4 separate regions of the Homo sapiens genome follow, and all the other regions are reported to be linked to region 1. The links are microRNA targets in miRTarBase. Many come from high-throughput screens and were not tested one by one. Region 1 holds a microRNA gene; each other region holds the end of a gene's coding sequence.

The links. The annotated mature microRNA hsa-miR-152-3p reads UCAGUGCAUGACAGAACUUGG and lies in region 1 at 2,051-2,071, opposite strand. An mRNA with a match to its seed (bases 2 to 7 or 8) in the 3' UTR can be bound and repressed. Matches are read on the target gene's strand: a 7mer-m8 pairs with bases 2 to 8, a 7mer-A1 pairs with bases 2 to 7 and ends in A, and an 8mer does both.
Region 2: miRTarBase lists HS6ST2 as a target of hsa-miR-152-3p. The part of its 3' UTR that is shown has no 7-base or 8-base seed match.
Region 3: the mRNA of IL23R is a reported target of hsa-miR-152-3p. Seed matches in the 3' UTR shown: 8mer at 2,865-2,872.
Region 4: the mRNA of OBI1 is a reported target of hsa-miR-152-3p. Seed matches in the 3' UTR shown: 8mer at 2,283-2,290.

What each region holds. Positions count from the first base shown.
Region 1 is chr17:48,035,124-48,042,947 of GRCh38, forward strand. MIR152 (microRNA 152) reads right to left here and starts at 2,124; the gene lies at 2,038-2,124. It overlaps COPZ2 (coat protein complex I subunit zeta 2), which reads right to left and starts at 2,674. Exons shown (of 9, transcript NM_016429.4): 1 at 2,544-2,674; 2 at 1,728-1,802. The coding sequence starts at 2,654. RefSeq lists an enhancer at 3,791-3,840.
Region 2 is chrX:132,622,906-132,631,545 of GRCh38, forward strand. HS6ST2 (heparan sulfate 6-O-sulfotransferase 2) reads right to left here. Exons shown (of 5, transcript NM_001394073.1): 5 at 3,110-6,188. The coding sequence ends at 5,318. Among named protein-coding and RNA genes, the nearest start is that of HS6ST2-AS1, 40 kb to the right of the region's middle.
Region 3 is chr1:67,258,774-67,262,773 of GRCh38, reverse strand. It overlaps IL23R (interleukin 23 receptor), which reads right to left. Exons shown (of 11, transcript NM_144701.3): 11 at 2,795-4,000. The coding sequence ends at 3,646. Among named protein-coding and RNA genes, the nearest start is that of IL12RB2, 47 kb to the left of the region's middle.
Region 4 is chr13:78,612,093-78,620,732 of GRCh38, forward strand. It overlaps OBI1 (ORC ubiquitin ligase 1), which reads right to left. Exons shown (of 6, transcript NM_024546.4): 6 at 2,197-5,030. The coding sequence ends at 3,488. It overlaps OBI1-AS1 (OBI1 antisense RNA 1), which reads left to right. Exons shown (of 6, transcript NR_047001.1): 6 at 3,583-5,233. Among named protein-coding and RNA genes, the nearest start is that of POU4F1, 13 kb to the left of the region's middle.

The DNA of each region.
Region 1 (7,824 bases):
ATCCCATAACTAAATTAATGTTTTTTGTTTGGGAATGGTGAGCCTCTCTCTCTGACTCAGTTTCTTAATCTGTAGGGAGGAAAAGCCTTTGGCCTTGCTGATCCACCTCTGACCATCTGCTGGGGCAAGGTGTGGTCAGCTCAGTTTTCAATTTTCTGGATGTGGATTTTGCCACTTAATACTCAATCCGCAGGCAGATTAGCCATCTCCCTAGTGGCCGCTGCTTATTTGAATTTCATAAAAACAAAAAACTTTCAGTTCCAAATAAACAAACAGAAAATCTATTTTTTGGGATGGGGTCTCACTCTATAACCCAGATTGGAGTGCAGTAGCTCGATCATGGCTCACTGCAGCCTCAACCTCTCGGGCTCAGGCAATCCTCCCACTTCAGCCTCCCGAGTAGGTGGGACTACAGGCACACACCACCACGCCCGGCTAATTTTCGTTTTTTTGTTTTTTGTTTTTGTTTTGTTTTGTTTTTTGTAGAGATGGGGTGTGCCATGTTGCCCAGGCTGGTCTGGCACTCCTGGGCTCAAGCAGTCCACCCGCCTCGGCCTCCCAAAGTACTGGGATTACAGGCATCAGCCACTGCGCCTGGCCTTACAACACATTTCTTTTCTTTTTCTTTTCTTTTTTTTTTTTTTTTTGAGACAGAGTTTCGCTCTTGTTGCCCAGGCTGGAGTGCAATGGTGTGATCTCGGCTCACTGCAACCTCTGCCTCCCAGGTTCAAGCAATTCTCCTGCCTCAGCCTCTCGAGTAGCTGGGATTACAGGCGCCCACCACCATGCCTGGCTAATTCTTTGTATTTTTAGTAGAGACAGGGTTTCACCATGTTGTCCAGGCTGGTTTCGAACTCCTGACCTCAAGTGATCTGCCCGCCTTGGCCTCCCAAAGTGCTGGGATTACAGGCATGAGCCATCACACCTGGCCTTATAATGCATTTCATAGCTAATGCAGATGCTATAGCTCCCCTACAATTAATTGTGTTGACAGCAGAAATTTATTTTTGGATTATTTTAGTTTGGTTCGCTCAGGCCATGTTTGCTAGGATAGATAACAGCTAATTGAATGGGGGTACAGTGAAAACCACCTTGAGCTTCATGTCAAAAAACCCGAGTTTGCCTGTGAAACCTGTGAAATGGGAGAAGTGAAAAAATTAAATAAGTAAATAAATAAAATTTGAGTTTGGATCTGTTAGGATATTAATACTTGTGACCTCAGGCAACTCACTTAGCTTCTCTACCCCTCATTTTCTTCATCTACGAAATTAAAGAGTTGGATTATACAGTTTCTAAAATCCCATCTGGTTCTAAATCCTTAGACTCCTTAGACTAAATCGTTAGTGTTTACCAAGCTGTAGAACAAAAGTGGAGGTTTAGAGACAAACCCCAAAGAACAAAAGAACTTGTGTGGGGGTTTGGGGACTAAGACTCCTGGGTCCCAGGCTCAACACTCCACTGACCCATTAGGCAGAACCTTCCCATGCCCAGGTCCAACTGGCCAGTAGCAGGATGATAAGGAAACATTTCAGGGAACATGAGTAGAAATAGAGGAGACCCCTCATTTCAGGGAGCAGCACCTTGACAAGGCAGGAGGATGAGAAGGACCTCTGGAGGGGTCTAAGCTGAGCTGCCCTGAGTCACAGAGATCACAGTGGAGTTTCTCCTGAGACAGGAGTGTCAGCTGAGTGGGAACTGTGTCCCTCATGGGTGGGGTCAGAGGTTACCTTGGCCAGCAGCCGGCGCCCGTCATTATCTAGGATGAAAACAGCCTTGATGGTGTAGAGGGAAGGTTCCTGCAACTGACACCGGAGAGGAGAGTTCCGTTTGGCCCCTGACTCGAGGTGGACACCCTGTGTCTATGGGATCTGCTGGCCCTAGGATACATCCTCAGGCCCCAGCAACCCCAGTCCTCAAGGTCCACAGCTGGTTCTGCCCAGCCCTGTGCCACATGGGCCAACCCAGGTGCCCACTCCACTCCCAGGCAGATGTTCCACTGCAGGCCCCGAGTGGGCGCTGTGCCCGTTGGGTGCAGAAGGTCCTTCCGGGCCCAAGTTCTGTCATGCACTGACTGCTCCAGAGCCCGAGTCGGAGTGTATCACAGAACCTGGGCCGGGGGGGACAGCGGGCCGAGCCTCCTTCTTCCAGCTGATCCCTGGCCGGGCTGGACCTGCGCTATCAGCGCGCCCCCAGGCCCTGGCCCGGGTAGACTCCAGAAGCATGCCCATCACCCACCGGTGATGGGAGCCGAGTCTGGGACGGACAGGCCACTCCTTACCCTCCCCGCGGAATCGCAACTCACCCGCCACCCCCACTCCAAACGGACCCAGAACTTCAGCCCCGCGCCGACGGACTCAGGACAGGCCTCCTCTCCGGTCGGCGCTGGGACGAACTTTTCCTCCCGGGTCCTGGGGCCAGTCAGGGGTGACACAAAGTTCCCAGCCGCCGGGCGCGCGAGTTCTGAGTTGGCTGCTCCCCCTAACCCTGCTCTGTCCCTGCCCAGCTCCCGCCGCCCGGGATCCCCGCGCCCGCCCGCTCCGTACCCGCAGCCCCGAGGGCTCCCCGGCTCGAGCAGGCGGCGCCGGGCCCCCGGCCTGGGCCGCCGCGGCCCCCTCCCCCGGGTGCGGACGTGGCCAGGCCTCGGGCCGCTGCATTCCGCTCGCCGCCTCGCACTGACAGCGCCGCCCGCCGCCTGCCCGCCGCCGCCGCCCCGCCTCCGCGCCGCCCCGCGGCCCCCTCTCGCGCGTGGCCTCCCTTTCCTCGGGGCCCCGTCCTCTTGCTCGTTCTCCCCCATCTCCCCTCCCGCCCTCACCCCACCTCTCCTTCCCCCACTTCTCCTCTCCCTCTCTCCTCCTTGGCTCCTTCCCGAGTCCCTTACATCCCCGAACTCTGCATCCTCAGGGTGCCCCAAGACCAGCCCTCGTCCTGCTTCCTGCCTGCTCTCCGGCCTGTGGCTTTGGTGTGCGCCAGTGTCTATAGGCTGTCCTGGGGCCAGCAGCAAACACAAGCAAAGCCCACTTTTGTCTGTTGACCTCTGGTAGGTACCATGAGGACAAATACGTCAGGTCACCCTTTAGATCTCAGGGACAGGGTCTATAAGCAAGAGCAAATGAGGACAGTTCTGGGGACACCCCTCTGTGAAGAGGCTTTCTCATTCCTCTCTCACTACTTGCAGAAGGCAACCATGGGCCCGGAGACACCTCCCCAGGCTCTCCTAAGTCACAGATATGGCACCATCAGAAGCAAGACAGACGCCCAGCAGCACAAATGCTCCACCAATGACATCGGGCTTTGCAGCATGTTTTGGTTTCTTTGGTCTAAGTCTAACTAAGACAAGCTCTCATTTCAGGGTACACTGGCAAGTGGGAAATTCACATCCCAGTGATATGTTAGTGCTACGTATGCATTTACCGGTAAAAACACTGTGCGTGTATTTTACATTTGACACCTTCACATCCATTATCTAATATAGCCCACACCTGTAAGATAGGCATAATGGACCCTCATTTTAAGCAAAGAGAGACTCAGAGGTTGTGTGACCTTTTCAAGACTATACAGCTAGTTGACTGGGGATAGAACCCAGATTTTTGACTCAAAATTTCTTCCCTATTCTTCTCTTCAAGCCCTCTTATGTTGTGGACCACAGTCACTTACCCTAGATGGTTACAGAATGGGGTTTTCCTCACTGAATGCATCAAGTCTTCTTATCTTCAAGCCTCTGCTGAAATATAATTACCAAAAGGTCCTCCTGACAGCCACCATATCTGACTTGATAGGTCTCTCCTGTCACATTCTCTCAGTTCCTATTTCTTTCTTTCATTGCACTTTTTTCAATCTCTAAATATTATTTTTACTAATATTGCTTGTTTGAGACACGGTCTCACTCTGTTGCCCAGGCTGGAGTGCAGTGACTCGATCTGGGCTCACTGCAGCCTCAACCTCCTGGGCTCAGGCAATCCTCCCATCTCAGTCTCCCGAGTAGCTGGGACCACTGGTGCATGCAACCACTCCCAGGTAATTTTTTATTTTTTTATTTTTTTTATTTTTGTAGAAACAAGGTCTCAAGTCTGGGCTCAATGGCTCACATCTGTAATCCCAGCACTTTGGGAGGCTGAGGTGGGCAGAAGGCTTGAGCCCAGGAGTTCCAGACCAGCCTGGGCAACATGGTAAGATCTAGTCTCTACTAAAACTACAAAGAAATTAGCCAGGTAGGGTGGTGTGACCTGTAGTCCCAGCTACTCAGAAGGCTGAGGTGGGAGAATCACCCGAGTCTGGGGGTTCAAGGCTGCAGAGCCATGATCATGCCACTGTGCTCCAGCCTGGGCAATGGGAGTGAGAATCTGTTTCAAAAAAAAAAAAAAGAAGAAGAAGAAGAAGAGAAAAAGAAAGGAAGAGGAGGAGGAGGGGGAGGAGGGTGATCATGATCAAGGTCTCACTATGTTGCCCAGGCTGGTCTTGAACGCCTAGGCTCAAGTGATCCTCCCACCTCAGCCTCCCAAAGTGTTGGGATACAGGCGTGAACCACCATTCCCAGCCTTTACTAGTTTGTTTATAAGTGTTCCTTCTCCCCGCCCAGACTTTGAGCCCTGCAAGAACCAATGAATGTGACTTTTTGTTTGTTTGTTTTTTTGTTTTGAGACAGGGTCTTGCTCTATCACCCAGGCTGGAGTACAGTGGTGTGATCATAGTTCACCGCAGCCTCAAATTCCCAGTGTCGGCCGGGCACGGTGGCTCACGCCTGTAATTCCAGCTCTTTGGAAGGCCGAGACAGGCGGATCACGAGGTCAGGAGTTTGAGACCAGCCTGGCCAACATGGTGAAACCCCATCTCTACTAAAAATACAAAAAAATTAGCCGGGGGTGGTGGCAGGTGCCTGTAATCCCAGCTACTCGGGAGGCTGAGGCAGGAGAATCACTTGAACCTGGGAGGTGGAGGTTGCAGTGACCCGAGACCGCACTACAGCACTCCAGCCTGGCCAAGAGAGCGAGAACCTGCTACCCACCCACCCACCCACACACACACACACACACAAACAACTCCCAGGATCAAGCCATTCTCCTGTCTCAGTCTCCTGAGTAGGTGGGACGATACACACGTGCCACCATGCCTGGTTATTTATTATTATTTTTTTTAAAGGCAGGGTCTTGCTGTGTTGTCCAGGCAGGTCTTGAACTCCTGGGATCAAGCCCTCCTCCTGCCTCGGCCTCCCAAAGCCCTGAGATTACAGGTGTGACCCACCTCACCTGGCCAATTATGTTTGTCTTGTTCACTGTGGAATCCCTAGTGTTTCTTACAAGGCTTGGTGACAGATTTTTTTTTTTTTTTTTTGAGACGGAGTCTTGCTCCGTCACCAGGCTGGAGTGCAGTGGCGAGATCTCGGCTCACTGCAACCTCCGCCTCACGGGTTCCAGTGATTCTCCTGCCTCAGCCTCCCGAGTAGTTGGGACTACAGGTGCACACCACCACGCCCAGCTAATTTTTGTATTTTTAGTAGAGACAGGGTTTCACCATGTTGGCCAGGATGGTCTCGATCTCTTGACCTTGTGATCTGCTTGCCTCGGCCTCCCAAAGTGCTGGGATTACAGGCATGAGCCACTGCACCTGGCCGATGACAGATATTTAATAAGCATTTGTGAAGTAAATGAATAAAGGAATTCAGGATGAGGGAGATCATGTATAAATATTCACAAATACCAAATTTTAACTAATAATAATTAAAATGTACCTATCAATGATACCATATTGGCTGGGTGTGGTGGCTCATACCTGTAATCCCAGCACTTTGAGAGGCCAAGGCGGGCAGATCACTTGAGACCAGGAGTTCGAGACCAGCCTGGCCAACATGGTGAAACCCTGATTCTACTAAAAACACACAAAAATCAGCCAGGCATGGTGGCGAGTGCCTGTAGTCCCAGCTACTTGGGAGGTGAAGGCAGGAGAATCATTTGCACCCAGGAGGCAGAGGCTGTAGTGAGCCAAGATCACACCACTGCAGCCTCAGCAACAGAGCAAGACTCTATCTCCAAAAAAAAAAAAAAAAAAAAGACAACATATTTTATGTGCTGTACAAATATTTATTGAGTGCTTAGTATGTACCAGATATTTTTCTAGCCACTGGGACACAATAGTAGACAAAAGAAAAATTTTGCTCTCATGGAACTTACAATCAAGTGTTTGTGTATGTACATGCGTGCGTTTCTGTGCAAGATATAATACACAAATAAATGGGAAAAGTAGATATTATATGAGTTGGGGATAAGTGCTGCAAAGAAAAATAGAGCAGAAATGGGATGTGGAATGTGAGGGGTAAGGGACAGGCAAGCCAGAAAGCCATTTTCATAGTCCTCTGAGAAAACCTTTAACAAGGTGACATTTGAACAAAGAGCTAAAGGAAAGGAGGAAGCAGGCCATGCAGACATCTGAGGAAGCATCTACTGACCCTCCCTATATGATGACTTAGAAGGCACATCTGAACCTTTCTTGCAGGCTATCAGTTATAATAGGGAACATAATGACACTATTTGATAACAGCAGCCAGGGAAAAGACCCAGCATTTGGGCATTTTATTTCTTCGGATTCCAGATCATCAGAAGTTATGTCAATGGTCATGCTGGCTGGGTATGTTATTTCTAAAAAATACTGATTTGGTTATTTTGATGTCTTAATATTTCTGTGAGCTAGTCCATTTTTTTTTTTTTTTTGGCTCATATTTACAAGGACAGCACCAAAAAGCCTCCAGGAGCATTTCTCAGCCTCTGTTTGGCTATGGTACCCACTATGAAAGACCAGCAGCCTCCAGAAGGGACAGAGGAAGACCTGGGAAGATAGGGGACTTAGGGGGCTGGCTCCATAGGGGAGGTGGGGAAGGAGTCAGTTATACACGTTAGGGATGGGAAGGCACTGGAGAGGGGCCAAGGGGATAGGAATGAGAGAAGGCTGGGGAAGGAAGCTTAGGAACCACAAAGTTCTCATCACCCCCACATCTATCACTGTTGTTGCTTTTTCTTTTTCTTTTTTTCTTTTTTTTGAGAAGGAGTTTCACTCTTGTTGCCCAGGCTGGAGTGCAATGGGGTGATATTGGCTCACTGCAATCTCCGCCTCCCAGGTTCAGGCGATTCTCCTGTCTCAGTCTCCTGAGTAGCTGGGATTACAGGTATGCGCCACCACACCCAGCTAATTTTTTTTATTTTTAGTAGAGACAGGGTTTCACTATGTTGTTTGGCTGGTCTTGAACTCCTGACCTCAGGTGATCCGCCTGCCTTGGCCTCCCAAAGTGCTGGGATTACAGGCGTGAACCACCGCGCCTGGCCTTGTTGTTCCTCTTCTTAAAATCTCTTTACATCTTTTCTTTTTTTTGAAATGGAGTCTCACTCTGTCGCCCAGGCTGGAGTGCAGTAGCACGATCTCGGCTCACTGCAACCTCTGCCTCCCGGGTTCAAGCAATTCTCCTGCCTCAGCCTCCCAAGTAGCAGGGATTACAGGTGCGTGCCACCATGCCCGGCTAATTTTTGTATTTTTAGTAGAGACGGGGTTTCACCATGTTAGCCAGGTTGTTCTCCAACTCCTGACCTTAAGTGATCTGCCCACCTTGGCCTCCCAAAGTGCTGGGATTATAGGCGTAAGCCACCGTGCCTGGCCCATAAAATCTCTTTACATCTTAGTTTAGTGGTGAATAAGTAAATTCAGAGCCAAGTTCAACTTTTCAAGGACAAGATTCTCCCCAATGATAACCCCTCCCCAAACTCCTTCAACAGAGACCCCAGAACTTCTTTCTCTCCATGACAACCGCTTCCCCACACATCCTGAAGTGCACCTTTAATGCAG
Region 2 (8,640 bases), not on the chromosome of region 1:
GCTACTCGAGAGGCTGAGGCTGAAGGATCAGTTGAGCTCAAGAGGTTGAGGCTGCTATGAACTATGATCACACCACTGCACTCTGACCTCAGTGACAGAGTGAGAGTCTGTCTCTAAAAAAATAAAAATGAAAAGTAAAGTTTATTCTATATCAGGCACAGTGTTAAGTGCTTTACAGATACTAACTCATTTAATCCTCACAACAACTCTCTGAAGTTACAGCTTTTATTTTCTCCATTTATAGGTGAAGAAACTGAGGCATGGAGAGGTTAGAGACTTTCTCAAGGTCACAGAGCTGGTAAATGGTGGAGCTGGGATTCAAACCCAGGCAGCATGCATATAGAGTCTATACTCTCAACCTATAACATCAGCAGTAATCAATTTTGTTGGGATAAACCATCCACTATATTCCTGTTTTGGAAGGGAATCCATGATACACTGCTGAACTTTTTCATAAAAAAAAAAAGAAATCAGGTAACAATGAGAACAATATGGTTTTATCCTTTTAAATAAATATATGTGTTTGTGTGTGCGGTTGGGTTGGAGGAAGAGCAGGAGGGAAGGGGGAGGGGGAGAGATAGCAGATTTGAATGTGGCTAGGACAAGGAGGTCTGGAGGAAATCATAATCACAGTAGTTATTTTGGGGAAGTGGGAGTTGTATAGGTAATTTCACTTTTTACTTTACATACTTATATATTGTTTTAATTTTTAAAAGCATGTGATAAAACACATACACACACGCACACACTCCAAGGAACTGGCAGGCATCAGCTATGTAAGACTAATGAAGAACTAATTAAGCTCTCACCTATAATTACTGACACAGCATGTGGCTGGGATTTCTGCAATCCTGAGAGAAAAGACCAGGTTCTCCCGTGCTTTCAGGCCTAAAAGCAGTGACTCTCACATAGTAGGTACTCAGTAAATGTTGTTTGTGGTGATATGGTATTGGAAAGTATGTTGTTTGAATCACATCCTTTTATTCTCTCAGACTCTGGGGTCATTATAAACTCCGCCAAGTTTTCAATACTTAGGAAATTTTGATCTGCTCTCTCGTTCCAGGGCTGACCAACTTTTTCTTTGGGGGGCAAGAAAATAAGTATTTTAGGCTTTTGGGGCCATAAGATCTCTGTTGCAACGACTCCTGCCACTGTTGCATGAGAGCAGCCAGGGAAAATATGCAAAGAAATGGGCGTGCTGTGTTCCAATAATACTATATTTACAAAAGCAGGCAGAGGGCTGCATTTGGCCCCAGGACAGTAGTTTTTGGACCCTGCTCTAGCTGCTCAGAACAGTGCCATTTGTACTGAGAAACAGCTCATTTGCTTTGTTTTCAGGATAGTTTTCTCCTGAAGTTCTGAGGGCTTTGCCCATTTGTGAAGGTCTGAGGGATGTACCTTGGAAATTGTGAGGTGTTGATCAAATTCCTTGGACACTTAAAACTGTCAGGCGGCCTCATTCTTGCCAAGTGAGAGATTTGAGTTGCCTTATTCCACAGTCCCAGAGGGTTACTTTCAGAGTCAGCATACTCTGTGTTTTTGCTAGAACTTTCTACAAAGTACTCGGCTTTTGTTTCTTTGCTTGGTTCAATCTCTAGAGAAGACAAGAGAGAAGAAACTTCCAGTCCACCTCTGATGGCCATTTGTGCAAAAGGAATATGCTGTCTCCCCTTTCCCAACTTTCAGTGTCAAAAGCAGTGTCTTCAGGTCAATGAATGCAAGAAAGCTGTGGGTTGCACATCGCCAACCTGGAATATTCTGTGGTTCTCTTCTGTGACTCAGACCCAGCATGCAAGTTTTATGCTTCTTTTTACCCCCGTACTCCACCCATGGAAGGAAACCATCCTTCCCATTGTGACAGCTTTATTAGACCCATCACCCAAAGGTAGTTCTGGTTGTACTTGGTTATCACCCCTATTGAGAATCCTAATTAAGTCCTGAGGAACCGAGCCAATTCGTTGTTTCTTCATTTTAGCTCCTCCCTGGGCTGCCTCAATAGCTCATTTCCTTAGCAGGTTTCCTATCTTTTCTCCACTACAGTTAGAGCGCCCTGCTCTCCATGAGTACCTACCCTCCTCAGGGGAAAAGGGAACCAAACTTTATTTCTGAAATATTTCAAGTTCTTGGACTTTATGTTCCTGTTCACAGATCCTCCCAAGGGGGTGTAGGATCTTTATACAATCAGGCCCTTTGGCAGCCCAAATATTGATCAAGAAGCAGTTGACAGGCAAAACCATGTAAGCTGATATGGTTAGACTTTTTGTCCCCACCCAAATCTCATCTTGAATTGTAATCCCCATAATCCCCATGTGTCAAGGGAGAGACCAGGTGGAGGTGATTGAATCATGAGGGTGGTTTCCCCTTTGCTGTTCTTGTGATAGTGAGTTCTCACGAGATCTGATGGTTTTATAAGGGGCTCTTCCCCCTTCACTCAGCACTTCTCCTTCCTGCCACCTTGTGAAGAAGATGCCTTGCTTTTCCTTCACTTTCTGCCATGATTGTGAGTTTCCTGAGGCCTCCTCAACCATGCAGAACTGTGAGTCAATTAAACCTCTTTCCTTTATAAATTACCCAGTCTCAGGCAGTTCTTTATAGCAGTATGAAAATGGACTTATACAATACATATGAATAGTTTACAGGCTAAGGCTACTTAACTACATCTCCAACCAAATTTGTAGCTTTCTTCCTCTAACCCCTTGGGACTGACATTTAAAGTCTCTTTGGAAAAGCGCAAGGACAAATCATACCCCACTCCCCCATAGTGCTAACTATAAGAGTTTGTTTGAAAAAATGTGCACATTTTGTGTTTGGGACTTTAAAAACCAATACATTAATGCTTACATTTAAACTCTACCCTGTGGATAGAAGGGAGAATGAAGAGCACCATTGTGGGTTGGACACGCTTGTACAAAAAACATGGACTCCCAGAAGGAATCACCCCAAATTAAGGCCATTTTAGTGTGAGGGATTAGAATGGGCCATCTAATTTTCATACCTGGCTGCCAAGAGGATAAAAGGAAATGTCTTGTTGAAAAAAATTCTGTTCTGGTTTGTGAGATCACAATGTCTAGCAGCTGCAAATCTTGAAATTATGAGATTACTCAGAGCCTGTAATTTAAACTTTATTTCATATCTATTGTTAAATTACACAAAATCAGTGAATGGTTTGTAAAGCTACACCAATGGACAGATGTTTACAGTTGAAATCATGGGATTTACATAATGGCAAAAATGTATATGTATATTTATAACATCCTCTATATACAATAATCAGTATAGACAGAGAAAATGCACTTAATCTTTGCAAATCATGCACACCACAGCAATAACACAAAATGTTTTTTCTGTAACAAGCTTTTCCACTGGCTCAGGCTTCATCCTGCTTTCCAACAATACCTATCAGTTTTAAAAGCAAACATTTTCAATTAAAACTAAAGAAAATTGAAATACCATAGTGATCTACTAACTATTTTAAAAACACAATTGTACACAAAATAGTTTTACTCTAAAACACTGTGACTTCAAGGTGTGGAAAAATTCCTTTCAGTTTTTTAGCTCTCAGGATTTTCAAGACTGCAATACTGTCAGACAAAACAAAAGCTAGAAATACTGATACAAGCTCAGAGTCAAGAAAATCTATTTTAAACCCAAATACCCAGCTTCTTGTCCAGTTTGTGGCTATATTACTACAGATGAAACACATGAGCAGATTGTACAAGATGTGACTTTATGGTCACACTTCTAAGCATGTCCCTTGTGAAAACATAAATGCCACTTTCAGTCACCTTGTTTGATTTACAGCCAGGAGGTTAGTGTAAGTCCTTGCATAAGTATAGCAAAATCCACAGTAAAATGAAAACTGCCCGGAATCATGATGCTTGACAGCACAGTGGGTTACATACTTCTTTTTATCTTGGTCAGCTTGTAATAGGTACCATAGAAGTATTTTTGCATCGACTTACACTACCAAATTACTCTGCTCAACTCATATGTTCCTGATATGTAACCTCACTACAGAACACTTTTTACTTTTGCTCTTTTCAAAACAAAAACTTTGTAGAAGGGTTTGCCCACATTATCAAGGTGCTATTGAATAACTGGCTAGCCTTCCTAATGCTTATTTTATCCTTTTTTGGCTTTTGTAATTGTCTACAAATCTGTCAACATGAAAAAGAACTAAAGGGCTAGAAATAGTTGGCCCAACTGGAAACATTACAATAGAGATGTACAAAAAGTAAGTAAGAGTTCACATTTTAGGTTAAATTCTATCTGATCAAGAATAACTTCAGCAATATTTTTAGACACATTATCCTGTTCAAGTTTCTTGATTAGGACCTCACTACACAAATATTGATAAAATAATTCTATAGAAAGAAAGTCCTGACTTTAATCCAGGATTATATACCACAATAACTTCAGCAACACACCATTTAGATGATGAAGAAAGATTCTATACATGGGTTAATTTGGAATGAGCACAATTCAGAGAAGCCTTAAAATGAATGAGAAGCAGCGCCAAAATGATTCCAGTATTGTTGAAATTACAGTGCCCTGAAAGCGCCTGGAAATTAGATCTTTACATTGGTATTTCATTTTGAAAAAAAGGTGTTTTGTTTAATGTGAGATACACCCTGTGTAAAACCTTTAAACAGTAGAAGGTAGAAAAAGTTTAAAATTTTAAACATCTCTTAAATATCAAGATATGAGTCCTGTTCTTGAAAAGCCAATATTTTGACATAAAACTACCCATGTTTGGAGAGGAATTTTTTATTTTCTACAGCTCGGTAAGATTCACCATCAGTTGTTATTCTATTTAAATAGATTCCTTGTTAAAATCAGAAGAAAATAAAAGGTTTTATGTTTCATTTTAGTTGCTTTATGTTTATACTTATTCTCACCCCTGGAAAAAATATTTGATTCCAAGATTGGGTTTTAACAGTGTATCATGAATAATTTAAAGTCCATTTCTTAGCCATAAGTTAAATGGTCACATTTTATGTTTTCACTTTGTCTCCATAACTAATTTAAGAACTTCTTAAAATATCTAAACAGCAATTTCTGGTGAGTCTGGTTTGGCTTTCGGATTTCATATTTAGTCCAACCCCAAAAAGACAATTTAATTCCATATTGAGATTTGTTTTACCTACACACAGTATAACACTGAATTGAAAGGCAACTGTAAAGGCAACATCTAAACTTTTTTTTAAAACTTCCCCAATGAAGGAAGCAGGATGTGTTTGGACACTTTCATCTTTTAAGCTATGCCATCTTTTCAGTGGCGCTTTGGGAGAAGTATGTACAGGCCTTTTTGAGCCATTTAACGCCATTTCTCTACACTGCCTATGTAGTCGTTGGTGCCATTGCTGGTGTTATCATTCTGCTCCTTGCCTGAGTTCTGCTTCGGGCTTTCCCGGTTCTCCTTCTGGCTCAAACTCTGAGTCAGATTCTGCATCAGATTCTGAGTCAGGTTCTGATTGGCATTCGGATTTGGGTTCTGACTCTGATTCTGATTCGGATTCTGGCTCTGGCCCTGACCCTGGCTCTGGAAATGGGTCTGAAGGAGCCTTCCCTTCAGAAATTTGCGTTGTTCCTGACGCTTTCGCCTGGCCTCCTGATGCTCTTTCTGCCTCATAAACTGATACCTCTGCAAAAAAAGGTCTTTGGCATAGCTGTACAACTCCATATCCAGAAAATTCAGTCCCTCAATACGCTTTTGAATTTCCTCATTGATCTCTACACTAGAGGCCCTAGTGGTATTATACTGGGTAAATGGCGAAATAAAGTTCATGTTGAAGGTTTTCTCAAACAGATATTGGGTCTTCCGCTGAAACTCAGTGAGGCCGAAGAACGCCATGTGCTTCAGATTTGACTTGGCACTTTCCAGAAGGACCTTGTTTCTTTGCTTTTCAGGCATGACAGAGAGGTTGTAGCAGCCTACCAGGGTCAGGTCGGAGAGCATGCGCACCTGGCGGTTGTTGGCTAGATTGTAGGGACAGTCCATAAACTCTTTGAGGGGGCAGCCAGACCAGTCATCGCCAGTGTAGCAGCTGGGCAGCTCTTCGGAGGTTGGAGGCCTTCCATCGCAGACATGCAGGGATGCTTTCCATGTTGCCCCTCTCTGGACATGCCTCCACTCACTCAAGTACCGGGACACTGGGTCTCGGAGGATGGTGATGTAGTGGAAGTTCCTATGGATGAAGCACAAAAACCAACAGTCAGAGATATGGGCGAAATAAGTGGAGTCATGGAGGTACATGGCATATGTGGTGTTCACTGGCTAAAAAGGAAGGCAAAGCAAAAATGACAGGGATCTGATGGCATTTGTCCTGTAAACTGTACTGCAGTCCCCTCTCTGAGTCTCACTAGCCTAGAGATAGCTAATTTTTTCAACCAATTTGCTGATACTTCAGCTAAAACAGGTATGAAAAGGTTAGATTCCAGACATTGACCTTGTCATGCTTCACTCCCGTTCGTTCCCCCTTCCCCTCTTTTTCTCCCTCTCTAACCAAAGACAAAATCTTCCCAATGACACCATTGGCTAACTAGGCAACCACTTTATTTCATGCCCCCCACTCTAAACCATTTAGTGATCATGAAATGGAGACTCATTGGAAGCACATACTTTATTGGAGTGAAATGGAGTTGACAAGTGGGTTCAAATTCGAATCTTATTAAATATGCAATAGCATTTTTTCTAATATCCAGTCTAATCTGCATATCTTTTTGTTTTTAAAAAACTCATTAAAAGAGTGTATGATATGATACTCTTGATTCTGGCTGTTGTCATATTATGGCTCATACATTATGGAAGTGGAATGTAGAGATAGGCAGAGTAGCCCAGGGCCTCCAGCAATAAACGCTGTGGTTAGTCACTGACTGAAATAGACATGGTAGCTGCCAATGGCATGTATGCAAGCTACTACCTTGGTTTCCACCTTTGCTCCTATGATAATATTCCCAGGATAGGAAACTTAACTCTATCAGCAGCTTCAAAATGTCCCTTTTCCTTATCTACTAAAAGGGCACGTGGATGTCAGCAAGTGTGGAGGCTTTGCTGTATGGCTGTCTTCTCTTTAGGGCTTCAAACAAAGTTCTTTGCTCAAATAGCAGACTAGCAAACATTTAAACCACATGTTAACACACTCACACCATACATGGTAGGCACACGCCCCAGAAACATCAAGTCCATGATACAATCAGGCATACTTAAGGAGAGAACCGTGTCATTGTGCTTTTCATGAGAAATGGGTTACCACTCAGGTACAGAAGATGAAGGACGAGGCCACAGAAGGGCATATTGTGGAAAGAAAGCAACAATAAACATTGAATATTAGCATTTAGCTTCTTAAAGGAAACCCGGAGAATGGCTTGCAACTTTTCTGAAATATTCATTCCCATCTGAGGGAGTGGTTGTTCTCTACACATACATGAGGAGCCACAGGGAACCTGCTCAGCCACCTGCTTAACTGAATATTGGCTGATGTTCATTGAGGAAACGTTTCTCCCAACTGGGGCTTCCATCACCTCAGGCATCCTGAAATCTATCTCCTATGCCTCTATCCTGTACATGGTGCTTGCTCTGCCTGCCATGATCTTCCCTCTTTGGCTGGAAAATTCTACTCATCCTTCAATACCAGTTCAAGTACCATCTCTTTTGTGAAAAAATGTACCCCACTCTGTGTTGCCAGTTATCATTTCTTCCTCTGTGTTGCCATAGCACTTCTATACTTAGCCTTTGTTAAAATATTTGTGATACTGGGGCTGGGCACGGTGGCTCATGCCTGTAATCCCAGCAGTTTGGGAGGCTGAGGTGGGTGGGTTGCTTGAGGTAAGGAGTTTGAGACCAGCCTGGACAACACGGTGAAACCCCATCTGTTAAAAATACAAAAATTAGCCAGGTGTGGTTGTGCGCTCCCGTAATCCTAGCTACTCAGGAGGCTGAGGCACGAGAATCACTTGAACCCAGGAGACGGAGGTTGCAGTGAGCTGTGGTTGTGCCACTGCATTTCAGCCTGAGCAATAGAGTGAGACCCTACCCCTCCACCCCACTGCCTCCCCCAAAAATGTGTGATACTGAATTACAATTAATTGTTTATATTTCCACTTAAACTATGTTTTCAAGGACAGGGGCTCTGTCCTATTCTTCTATATAGCCCTCATCCCATCCATTCCAGCTTTGTACATTGGCCTTCATCCCTGGCATAAAGCAGAATCTCAGTAACTTCTTTAACTGCTTACTTGATGAACTATCCTGGGGAAGAGGAAGGAGAGAGCTAGGGACATGCCTCATGACATAAAAACTCTGGATAATCTTCTAAGTGCCTTGCAAAAAATCACAGGAAGGTTTTTCTTAAAATAAATCACTTTATATATTTTTTCAGGAAGAAACAAGCATTGGGCACAGGAGAAGCATCTGGGAGTGAGGATGGAAAAGGGGCCAAGAGCACTTTCACTTGTCTCACTACTTTCCCTAGGACCTGATCTTGTTGGTGCCACTAAAATTCATCTCTATGAGAAGCCACTGCTAAAGAGTAGCAGCTTTTGTTCTCCAGTAGCCTTTACCAACAAAGATGACTACTAAAGCCCTGGGTTCCCTCCTTCCACTCCTAGCTTTAGTACTCATCCATTCAGTGCATACTT
Region 3 (4,000 bases), not on the chromosome of region 1:
CATGCCCCTTTAGGAATCAGCGACTTAAAAGATTGTGAGACTCAGAGAAAGAAAGTTAATAATAGACACAAGAGCTAGATAGAAAGATGAATAGGTATGCACTTGTCCTCAGAATCTGCAGAAAATTCTGGCTTAAGAAGGTTAAGATGGGAGGTGGGGAGTGGTCAGGGTGGAAGATAATCAGTGGCAAGTTGTACGGGAGGGAAAGAAGTAAAGACATTAGCCACTCAAGGCTTTCTCTATAGAAGGATTTGTCAGTGGCAAGCTGGCTCTTACCTGAGACTCAGATGAACATCAGTATCACTTCCTGGGAGTGGTCTTTCCTGACCACCCAGTGTAAAGTGGCCACCGATTTGCTATCCACCACATTATCCCATTTTACCTCTCTAGACAGCACTTATTATCTGACATTTTCCTTTATTTTTTTCTGCCTCTCTCCACCCCCTACCTCTGGCCTCTTCCCCTACTAAAATGTAAGCTCCTTGGGGGCAATGACTTGTCCTAATTTACTGTCTGTCTCTTCCCCCTAGGATATAAGCCCCAAGCCTGCAGGGATTGACTGGTTTTGTTAAATCCATATCCTTCAAATGGCCTTGCACATATAACAGTAAGGACATTCAGTAGTTCAATGAATCCTTCTTGAATACAAGAATTATAGAAAGAAACCCTTTCTCCCCCGCGAAGTTTGCATTGTGATAAAGCAGCTTGAATTTTTCCCCTGAGTTGGGACAAAGGCAGGTACATTGCTCCCATTGCAGGTATAGCCTCAATTTCTAGTCCATTGGGACCAACAAGGGCTAATGGCAAAGACAGAATCAGAAGTGTCTCCTTTGTGCTGAATAGTGATGTGGGTTAAGACACCACAGAATGAGAAAGCAGCTTCCTTCCCACTCTAGGGGGCGAAAAGGAGGCACTCGCTGCAGTGGAAACATTTGCAGAAGATCAAACAATGCTGTAATCCTTTAAGCTTGATAAAAGCTTTTTTCATGTGTGATAGATTACAATTATGGTGAAACGTACTATAAAAATATTCTTCACATGTTACCAGACGTCTTCATCAGGTTTGCAAACATCAAAGATTTATCTTAGTCTTTTGTTATTTCAATCTCAAATGCTACCTCCTTCTTGGCTACTTTATGATTCTCCTTTTGCAAAAGAATCAAGCAAAGGCATACGGCAATTTACAAGTCAAGGTATTTAAGATTAGCATTTCATTAGTGATTTAAAATATATTCCTTTCAGAATATGCAAAGTACAAAAAATATATACATATTTTAGGATAAACAGAATAGAGTTTATCTGGGGGATAACTTTTTTTTTTTTTTACACTATGTAAAAGTATCAGGGGATACTTTTTTTTACAGTATGAATAGTAATACCCTTTTGGAGCAAAATGGCCTTAGTAAATGATAAAAAGTAAAATAAAGAGGATTGTCAGTGCAAAAAAAAAAAAAAAGATAAATTTCTGATGAATTACTTACATGCTGGACATTAAGTAGTCTTGAGTGACCATATGATTTATTATCCAAATAAGGGATGCTTCTGAGAGTGAATGAGGGCAGTTATTGGTCATAATTAACAATAGGACAATGGACAGAAACCAGGGCAAACTGGGATATACAGTCAACCTCATTTCAAGGATACTTAATGACCATAAAATTGCTTTTAGATTTTTATCAAAAAAAAAAAAAGTAAAACAAAATAGCCTGCTCATTTGCTAAAGACATAGTAAGCAATGAGTCTTTTTAAAATTAACTGCTTGATTTTTCATAATAAAATTAAATGACTAAATATGAGTATAAATTGACAACTGTTGGAGGAGAAAAAGAAATTCAGTGTGTAATCTACCTATTTTAATGAATGAATGAACGAATATTTATTTATTTTTTAGAGACGGGGTCTTGCTCTGGCACATGATCATTGATCATAGCGCACTGCAGTGTCTAACTCTTGGGCTCAAGTGTTCCTTCCGCCTCAGCCTCCTGAGTAGCTAGGACTATAGGCATGAATTTACATGCCCTACTCTACCCTATTTTAAACTGTTCTGATCATTCAGAAAAGTTGTCCTTGCCCATAAATATTAATCACAATAGTCTGCTGGGTAACATTTCTCAGCTTAAAATATGTATTTCATTTTTAAAGATCAACCACTTTTCCATATTGACATCATTGGTAGATAGATTTAATCTCCTACTCCAGTCCTTATGGATTGTGGCCATAAGGAACACTGCTTGGGAGGCTTCTGAGGGCACTTGTACAGCTCAGTAGAAAGGCCTGTTCTGATTGGCTGGTGATATCTGCAGGAGACATGGGATATGGGGCAATGGTAGGTTCAGCAAGTATTTGCCATCAAAACAGGTACTGAACAGATACCTGTTTTAACAATAATTTTCTAACATATATCTGGTTTGTAAACAAAAAATTACGTCTTGCTGATCCTGCATCTGTTACCTCTCATAGGTTCTATTATAGTATAAATAATATCCCAACTATGCCACAGGAAAACAAGGCCATCACTCTTGACTTAAGTGAAGACAGCAACCCATGATTCCACACATTATTGTTTCACAGCGCTGTTAGTCCCAAATCACACTAAGATCAAATCCCTAATACCTGGAGAGTAGGGGAAAAAAATAATACAGCAAACGACTAACTTCTCTTCTGTTTCTATTCTTCACTTATTTTGTCATTTGGGGCTATATTTTTATCTACTCAAGAGAATTTTAAGTGATAAAATGAAAATTAAACTTGCCTCTCCCTTTGCAAGCAAGTATTAGTTATTCTTTTTTTTTTTTTTTTTTTTTTTTTCCAGACAGAGTTTTGCTCTTGTTGCCCAGGCTGGAGTGCAGTGGCACAATCTCAGCTCAGTGCAACCTCTGCCTTCCTGGTTCAAGTGATTCTCCTGCCTCAGCCTCCCAAGTAGCTGGGATTACAAGCACCTGCCACCATGGCCGGCTAATTTTTGTAATTTTAGTAGAGACAGGGTTTCAGCATATTGGCCAGGCTGGACTCGAACTCCTGACCTCAGGTGATCCACCTACCTCAGCCTACCAAAGTGCTGGGATTACAAGCATGAGCCACCACGCCTGGCCTAATGATTCTATTTTAAAGGAAAATTTTCAGCATTTATTTTACTACCAGGTATTTTGCATTATTTACCCTTTCTGTACACAATAGAGAGCTGTTTTGCATCTTTCAATGAGGGAAAATAAAGAGGAAATAGTTGACTCTATAAAAAATACATGAGGCGTCCACATAATGCTGTTTTTGTGCCTGTATGTGTGACCATGAAGCATGTTCCACCTTCGGGACCTTAATTCTCTAATTTTAAGAAATGAGGCAGAAGAATGGCTAAAATTAAAAAGGCATGGAGCTCCCGGGAATTCTTACATGGTGATGGTAGGAGCACAGAAATGTCACTACTCTGGAAACAAGATTGGTAGAACTGAAACATATGCTTATCATATGGCCCAGCAATCCCCTACCTAGGTATTTATCCAAGGGAAATGAAAACATGTGTCCATGTGAAGATTTGTATGTGAATACATTTTTTTCAAAAAGAGGCAGAATTCAATTTCTATTGCAGGGAAAACCCAAGTTCAGATTGCAAGGCAGCTTTCTCATATTGATTTTGACCACACAGCTCTACTTTTCCAAGAGTGAAATCCTATTGAAGTGGCTTTCCAAAATATTTTGTGGAAAATAAGTATTAATAGATGGCAACTCCTCATTCACGATCCCCAAACAGGAGACAAATTCATCAGGAAGCAGGGTCTGTTCTGGAATAGTTTCACTGGGTGAATCATTTTCCAAAAGCATGGTGGTTTCCTCCTCTACTGAGTTTTGTATGTCAGGAGAACTGCATTCTCCTTGATTTAATATGAGGCTTAATTCTCCAAGAAATATTGTGTTGCTTAGTGAATTCACACTTGAAACAGAAAAAGCAAAATTAGGATGCTTTTGTAACCTGGGATTATTTCCTGAGTCTAAGGAATCAACT
Region 4 (8,640 bases), not on the chromosome of region 1:
ACAATGAGGCTTACCCCTTGTCTTCATCCATCTGTACTGCCATGATGAAATGTTTTGGACTAATTTTTAAACAATACAATTTTATTTCTCATTGTTCTGGGAGGTCCAAGATCAAGGCACCAGCAGATTCTGGTGAGGTCTCAGTATCTGCTTCAAAGATGCTACCTTCTAGCTGTGTCCTCCTCACATGGCGGAAGAAGCAAGGAAACTACCCCAGGCATTTTTTTTTTTTTTTTTTTTTGCAACCTTGCTCTGTCACCCAGGCTGGAGTGCAGTGGTGCGATCTCGGCTCACTGCAACCTCCGCCTCCTGGGTTGGAGCCATTCTCCTGCCTCAGCCTCCCAAGTAGCTGAGATTACAGGCGTCCGCCACCACGCCCAGCTAATTTTTTGTATTTTTAGTAGAGATGGCATTTCACTGTGTTAGCCAGGACGGTCTCGATCTCCTGACCTCGTGATCCGCCTGCCACGGCATCCCAAAATGCTGGGATTTCAGGCGTTGAGTCACTGTGCCTGGCACCCAGGCCTTTTTTATAAGGGCACTAATCCCATTCAGAGAAAGCAAAGCCCTCATGACCTAATCACCTACCAAAGGCCCCACCTCTTAGTACTATTACCTTGGGTGTTACAACATGTGAATTTGGAGGAACACAGATTTAGATCATACCACCCCTAAATTTAACCTGTGGCAGAAAAATTTTAATTTCTATATTTGAGTTTCTAACGTGTAGTCATATTATCAAAGACATTTAAAGTGCCAATAGCTCTGAATGTATCCATTAGCTTTAACATATCAGAAAAATGATTGGAAAATATGTAACATAAAACAAAATTCTGCTTTAAATTAGCTCTTTCTGGCTTTTTTTTTTTTTTTTTTTTTTTTTTGAGACAGAGTTTTGCTCCTGTTGCCCAGACTGGAGCGCAGTGGCATTATCTCGGCTCACCGCAACCTCCGCCTCCTGGGTTCAAGCGATTCTCCTGTCTCAGCCTCCCAAGTAACTAGGATTACAGTCATGTGCCACCATGCCTGGCTAATTTTGTATTTTTAGTAGATGGGGGTTTCTCCGTGTTGGTCAGGCTGGTCTCGAACTTCCGACCTCAGGTGATCGGCCCGCCTCCGCCTCCCAAAGTGCTTGGATTATAGGCATGAGCCACAGCGCCGGCCTCTGGCTATTACTTCTATAAGTGGAGGACATGATTCTTCAAATTACAAATGTGAATTGTCACTTTTATGGTTTCATTGAATCCTCAGTCTATTATAACAAGGGTCGGCAAACTTTTTTGTAAAAGACCAGATAGTAAATATTTTAGATGTTGTAGGTAATATGTAAACAAATGAGTGTAACTGTGTTCAAGTAACTTTATTTAGAAACAATGAAATGTGACTTTAATATAATTTTCCTGTGTTATGCAATAATCTATGGATTTTTAAAAACCTTCTACAACTGTAAATTCCATTTTTTGCTCACAGGCCTTTCAAGGGAGATTTTTAAAAAAGATTAAAATGCATAAAACTGAATTTTATGATTGGCCAGGTGTGGTGGCTCAGCACTTTTGGAGGCTGAGGCAGGAGGATCACTTGGGCCTGGGAATTCAGTACCAGCCTGGGCAACATAATGAGACGCTGTCTCTGCAAAAACTAAAAAATCAGCCTGACATGGTGCATGCCTGTAGTCCCAGATCTGTGGGAGACTGAGTGGGGAGGATGGCTTGAGCCCAGCCCACCCGAGGCTGCAGTGGGCCATAACTGTACCACTGCACTCCAGCCTGGGAAATAGCCGCAGACCAGATTTGGTCCATGAACCATAGTTTTTCAATGTATTATAAAATCAATTAAGAAATGGTAGTTTTTTGTAATCCCAGCACTTTGGGAAGCCAAGGAAGGAGAATCACCTGAGGTCAGGAGTTCGAGACCAACCTGGCCAACATGGCGAAACCCTGTCTCTATTAGTAAAGTACAAAGATTAGCTGGGTGTGGTGGCAGGTGCCTGTAATCCCAGCTACTCAGGAGGCTGAGGCAGGAGAATTGCTTGAACCTGAGAGGCAGAGGTTGCAGTGAGCAGAGATCGCGCCACTGCACTCCAGCCTAGGCGACAAGATTGAGACTCCGTCTCAAAAAAAAAAAAAAGTAGTTTTTCCTGGTCTTTATAGGCTAATTCAATATACGAGACAAAGAATCATCATCGACATCAAGGAACACAGTGCTTATGACATTCTTTATTCAATTCACATAGAAAAGCATGCAGTATTAATGTAAAACAGTACAATATTAATGTAAAATGTTCAGTGCACATTAAACAGCATACATACCCATTTTTAAAGACCTATATAGGCATACCAAATACGTTTAGAACAATACACTTTTTCAGAGCCTAAATTAAAAATTGTGCTTACCTCTTACCTATCTTCACCCCCTCAACACTCTTCACAGAAAAGTTTTGTCCTACATAAAAGATATTCTATCAGCCAACTGAAACCTCTTTTTCTTAAGTATGGAAAACACAGCAAGCAAAAATGCTACCATGCATAGTTTCCACAAAGAACAGGAACATGCAAACAAGAAACATACTACTCAAAAGAAAACTCCCCTGGAATGCAAGTGGATCAAGAACTTGGCGATGAGCTCTTTCAAACCTGTTACATCTGGAACAATGAAGCTATGATGTTTTAGGTTCCTCTAAACCCAAGTGCTCCATGCCTTCTTTCCATAGTATGCTAAATTTCTGATTTTACACACATACACACACACGCAGAGGAGAAAATGTAAGCTACCTAACATAAAACAAATGTCTTCATATAGAAAATGTTTTCTTTCATACTAGCAGAACATTTTCACAAAACTGGACAAAACACAATGCTAAAAAATGCAAACATATACATAAAACCTAAAAAAAGAAAGTAAATCAATATTGGACTAAGGCTAGAGTGCTATTTCTCCATCATGGCCCTGCAGAAAAACTAGGCCATCACTAAACATAAATAAAAAGGGACAGGTAAAATAATTTCCACCCTGGGAAAAGCTTAAACTCAAGTGTCTTATTGAGCAGTGTATAGACAACACTAAAAGTTTTATTTAAGAAATCCAAGTTCTGAAGACAAGTGGGGCTTATCAACAGGCCACTGTATCTAACAGTTAAATAACATTTTTTAAAAAAACAATGTATATCCAACCGAGATACATATCAAATTCAGTAAAAAAACAAAACCAAAAACAAAACCAACCAACCAACCAACCCCAAAACACAAAAATAACCTCCTCCCTAACTTCTCTGGTCACAAAGACTCCCAAATAAAAATGAAAAGAACAAAGTCTTTTCAAAATGAACAATAAGTATTCTGGGTACAGGTTAATCCACCATCCTGACTTGATACTTGACTAAAGATTATCAATTCCAATTTGTATAGAACTTTTATGAGGAAAAAAGGTAACTTTAACAACTTTTCTATTTCTCTCAGGACAAAACCACAAATGACACCTTTCTAATGAGTCAACTTTTAGTTGCTTTTGATGGGCTGGCACTGGAAAGGCTGCTCTGGATTTTTCTTTTTGTTGATTGATTCACATTTTTATTCCTCTTTTCAGGCACAAAGGAAGTAGACCAAGGAGACTGAAGGTGGTTATGAAGACTGTGCATCTCTGAGGACATCTTAAACAAAGATGACCCAAATCTTTGATCTTCAAATAGTCGATGTGAACTGCTTAACAAAATGCCCTGGGAAAACTCTGTCTGAAACAAGCAGCTTGGGGGTTTGATTTCATTAGTTACTGGACAAGAACTGGAATGGAGTGAAAAATCTTCATTCATTTCTTGGTCAGATGGAGAGAGGAGAAAAAAAGAAGTGGGTTTCCATTCACTTCCATTTTCTAACTGATCATTAGTTAGAGAACCTTTGGAAAGGTTTAGCTCAGTTTTTTCTTCCAACTTATCAGGTTCCTCAAGAAATTCACTGCCTTGAGATGACTTTGATAACCCATCCAAATCCAGTGACTTAAAACCGTTATTACAAGGGCTCTTGCTGTTGTCTGACTCTGACATCATTGAATCCAACTCAGAGATTTTGTCAAGGTAAGCAGCATCCATCGATGCTTCACTGGATGTTCTTGTCCGGTTCATTTCAAAAGAGCGAATAGAATTCAACCTTTTGGATAAACATAAGCCTGATTTCTCACTCAATTTTGAAGATATTTCTCCAACAGAATTTGCTATCGTGTTCCCCTCTGAACTTTCAAAATCTAAGTTTTGGGCATAGCTTGTGGAACAACAGTCCCAAAATCCTGTCTTTGGGGAAGAAAAACATTCTGATTTCTTTTCATTTTCACTTCTACTTATATCATCTTCTGAAGAATCTTTATTAGAAACATTTGAAGAATCACAAAAATCATCAAACACCAATTTTCTGAGATGGTTTGAGTGCTTTTTGGAACCTCCTGCTTGGACCACAGAGCTCTCTCTATTTTCTGGAGTACTGAGCTGAAGGCAACTAAGGGACAAAGGAGTACAAGGAGCTGGAAGATCATAAAGTTCTTCATCTTTGTAGGGTACACAGTCACTTGGTTTATTCCCCCATTCTCTTTCCAAATAAGTATCCATACTTGTATCTGTCACATCTAACATTACTTCTACCTGTTCTTGATATAGGTCTTTGTTCTTAGAACAGTTAAGGTCTGCTTTGCTGGTACTTTCCTGCCTTGCAGAACTGGTGTCACACAGTCTGCTGCTGGAAGGCTTCGCTAGGTGAGAAGAACTGGAGGTGGATGAGCCAGGCTGCTTTCTGGCACTATCGCCTTGATTCTTTGACACCACATCCTCCTCACTGCCTTTGCTCCCTTTGCCATCTGCAGAAAGTGCTGTCTGGCAAATGGAATTCATAGCTTCTTTCTCTTCACTTGAATTTTTTAGCTGTGCAACTTGAGATTCTAGTTCCTCTATATACTTATCACTTCGTTCCAGGGCTTTCTTGAGGCGATTGGTTTCACGCTCATACTGTTCTACTTTGGACTGAAGAGCAGCAACTGCAAACCTTCCAAACCTACAAAGAATGGAAAGATAGTTAATCTTATAACTCAAGCTTTTTTCTTTTCAAGGTTTGAGAGTGCAAACTGTCCCAGGCTATTCTAATTTCACCTAACAGTGACATTTCAGACCACTCAATGAGTAGGGCAAATGCCAGATGTATATTTTCAAAAAATGGTTTCCCCACTTACATAATAATAAACATATGATAATAATAGCAAAACCTAATAGGATATTTTTGTGGTTAAATCAGATCTATGGTAGCAGAGAGGCAGAAATGTGCTGATGATTTCCCCTCGAAGAGCTGGCTGTATCAATTCAGCTCATATATGCATGAAGAGTTATCCCCTAAAACAATGGCAAAGATTTATGATAACATTTGAACAGTGGTCTACATCTTGAAATATTTACATTCAATCATTTTCCTATCATACAGCAGTGTTTTACAATACATTTCTTATATAATGTCACCTTGTCAAACATAAAATGCCAATTTGAAATTCAGAAATCTTAGCAGTCCCAGGAGGGGTGGTTTTAAATACTTATTTGGGCCCTTTCAATTATAGCCACCCTTGATCTGAAGCTTTTCTGTGGCTTTTCAGAGCACTGGCCTTTAATTTATGTCAGCACTACTTATTTTTGGCATTTTACAGCTGTGTGGGACATCTATCTCATTTCTTTCAACTTTGAAATATGAAGTCAGTGCTTGTGATTCCAATATACTAGGCAAAAAAAAAAATTTTTTTGTACACTTTCTGAAAGAGAACATTTTGGAGAGTGACTGAAAAAGAATTCCCTTATTCACAAAAAGTCTACTCCTTTTACACCGGGATTATCTTGCTGTTATTTCCACCAAGAATGAGTACTGTGTTAAGCTCAGGAAACAATTTTTGAGTACCTAGTATAGGTTAGGTGGTATATTTGGGGCTGGGAACACAAAAGATAAAAAAGACTGTCTAGCTCCAAGGGACATAAAATATCTACCTTAAATTCAATCTTATCACCAAAAATAAATTCTATCTTTCAGGAAACTTATGAGCCAATAAATAACATAATCCCGTGAAAAATACCTTATCTCCTCCAAAATTCTTTTCAAAGCCTATTCTTAATCATCTTTTTGATGATTTATATATTGGCCCATTTCTAAGAATTAAGGGATTGTCTGTTTGGAGGAAGCTATGAGAAGGTGACTTTCAAAAATTATTTTTATCTTTGGGTTTATCTTTTTCTTCCTTTTTTCCCCTAATTTGAAAAATAATTACAATTAAGAACATGTATTTAGTATTGAAAAAAAAAACTACAAAAAAAGCAGAAGCCAATAGCAATTGCCCCTCTTAGAATCAACCACAACATGTTTTCAACTCCCACTTAATGCCCATCACCTCCTAAACCACTAGCCCAATTCATTCCCCATCTCAACCCCTACATAATCCCTGCACTCTTATCACTGAAGGAAAAAGCAGAGGCAAAGGTAAATATAGAATCATAAAATCTCAAGATTAGAAAGGGCTTTAAAAGACATGATTGCTGAATATTGATTTACTCACTGCAATTAACTGAACCCCCAGAGAGAGCACGCTCCCTTCAACTTCTAAAAAAACACAGCAAAAACCACAGGTATAACAAAAACAAAAGCAACTATAATAACAAGCCTCCCCATTTTAAAGACAAAGTTTACTACTGTATTTGGTTAAATGAATGATGGGAATTTTTCTTCTTTGTTAAAAATGTTTTGGCTTATAAATGTAGTACTTCACAGAGTTGTAGTTCTGCAAGAGAACTTTTAAAAAGTGGGCAAAGACCTTTCAGTACATTAAGTACAAATGTTTGTTAGTTCTTGATTGTAACTACTCTGGCATAATCAAATAACCCACATTTTTAAATGGAAAAACTGTAGTATGTTTATTTAATGCCAATAAGCAAAAGTGACAGCCTTACATTTGCTTATCAAGATAAATTTCTTCAAGTAAAATTTTTTATAATAAAGGTATCTCCTCAGATAAAAAAATCAAATGACTTAAAATCAAATAATGCTACTACATAGTAAGTCAGTTGCTACCAAAGGATATCTTTGGGAACTTAGAGGCCTACACACAGAAAGACTACTCAAAAATAAAGAATGCTTCCCAAAATATTACCAGCTTCTTGTTCCAGGGTTTTAGCTTGGAATTTCAAATATAGTATCATCTTAAGATACTGTATTTGCCTCTCTCTCTCTATATATTTTTTTTTTTTAGAAATTATGTTTTTAAAAGAAGTAACATATGGTTTGGAGTTGAAGTCAATGAGAGCCCTAAACATAATTTTTGTGTTATTTCAGAGAGAAGTAACAAAGGCCAGTAGCAGATCACATATGAGAGGCACAAGCAAGCAGAAGTCACTGATGGAGTTAGGCTGTTTTCTAAAAGGCCACTGCCCCCAATTTCCTTAAGTTTCCTTTCAATACTCTATAAATCTATAATACTTTCAGTGATCAGGCCCTTCTCCCATGCTAATAAGGGACCTGTGCTGGTTGGCAGACTGACAGAAATGTATACTAAAAGCCATGCAACTGATCAATTAATCAATTCATGTAATTTATTTGCTTTCTTTCTCCCACGTTAGAATAGAAGCTCAAGGAGAGCAGGTAGTTTGTCTTATATTCACTGCCAGATTCCTAGAACAATTCCTGGTATACGGCACTTGCCTGTTGTGTATTTCTTGAATAAAAGTCATTCTCTTACTTTAAGATACACTAGTGCCTTACATTGAGACAGGGTTGACACCACAGGATAAGCTAAAGGTCCTTGGCCTTCTTTTTACATGTTAAGTATTATGACAGTCACTGTATTACTAAAGTAAACATGTTTTGTTTACTACATTTGACTGTTTACTTTATTTCACTGACACCCAGGAAAGCAACAGAGACTGACATATGTACAGTACAGCCTTTTTTGCTACAGGCTTGACATTCTATACTGCTCCACCCCAAAAAACTTCACCTTAGTAAGACTGCAAATAGATGAGACTTTTGACATGTGTCAGGAAATTTTCAGCTTATCCAAGATAACTATATTAAATTTGGCAAAGGGCAATTTACCTTATTATAGAGAAATAACAATTAGGGATAAGTATCTGATGCTATACTTCCATAGAAGAAGGACATGAGCTTATTTATCTTTGGGTTTTAATACTTTTGTATTCACACTAATTCTAGATATTTGGAGTATACAACACTAAATGAAGCTATGCCAAGGCAAGCCGGAGGGATTTCTAATATCATTTACCATACTTCCTCCTTTTCTTGAGTAAATTTCAAAATGGAGTATTTTTATAAACATTCCATTAGAGACCAAAAGGCTTTGATTTTCAAAGTAGCAGTGATGGCCAAAGGCTTCATTGTGCCAGAAAAAACACTGCAGAGCAGTTTGGGAGCTACAATTGATATCGGAACTGTATTCTGCCAGAATCTAACAGAAGCTTAAAGGATTTTTCAGCTTGCAATATTAACTGATACATACATTCTGGATGAGAGAGAAAAGGATGCCAGTTCCCCTTGTCCAAATAGCTCTAAGAGATACAAGATCATTTCTGTCCCTAGTAAAAGAGAAATGGAAGTCCTATTGGTATGACCTTTGAGGTGGTAT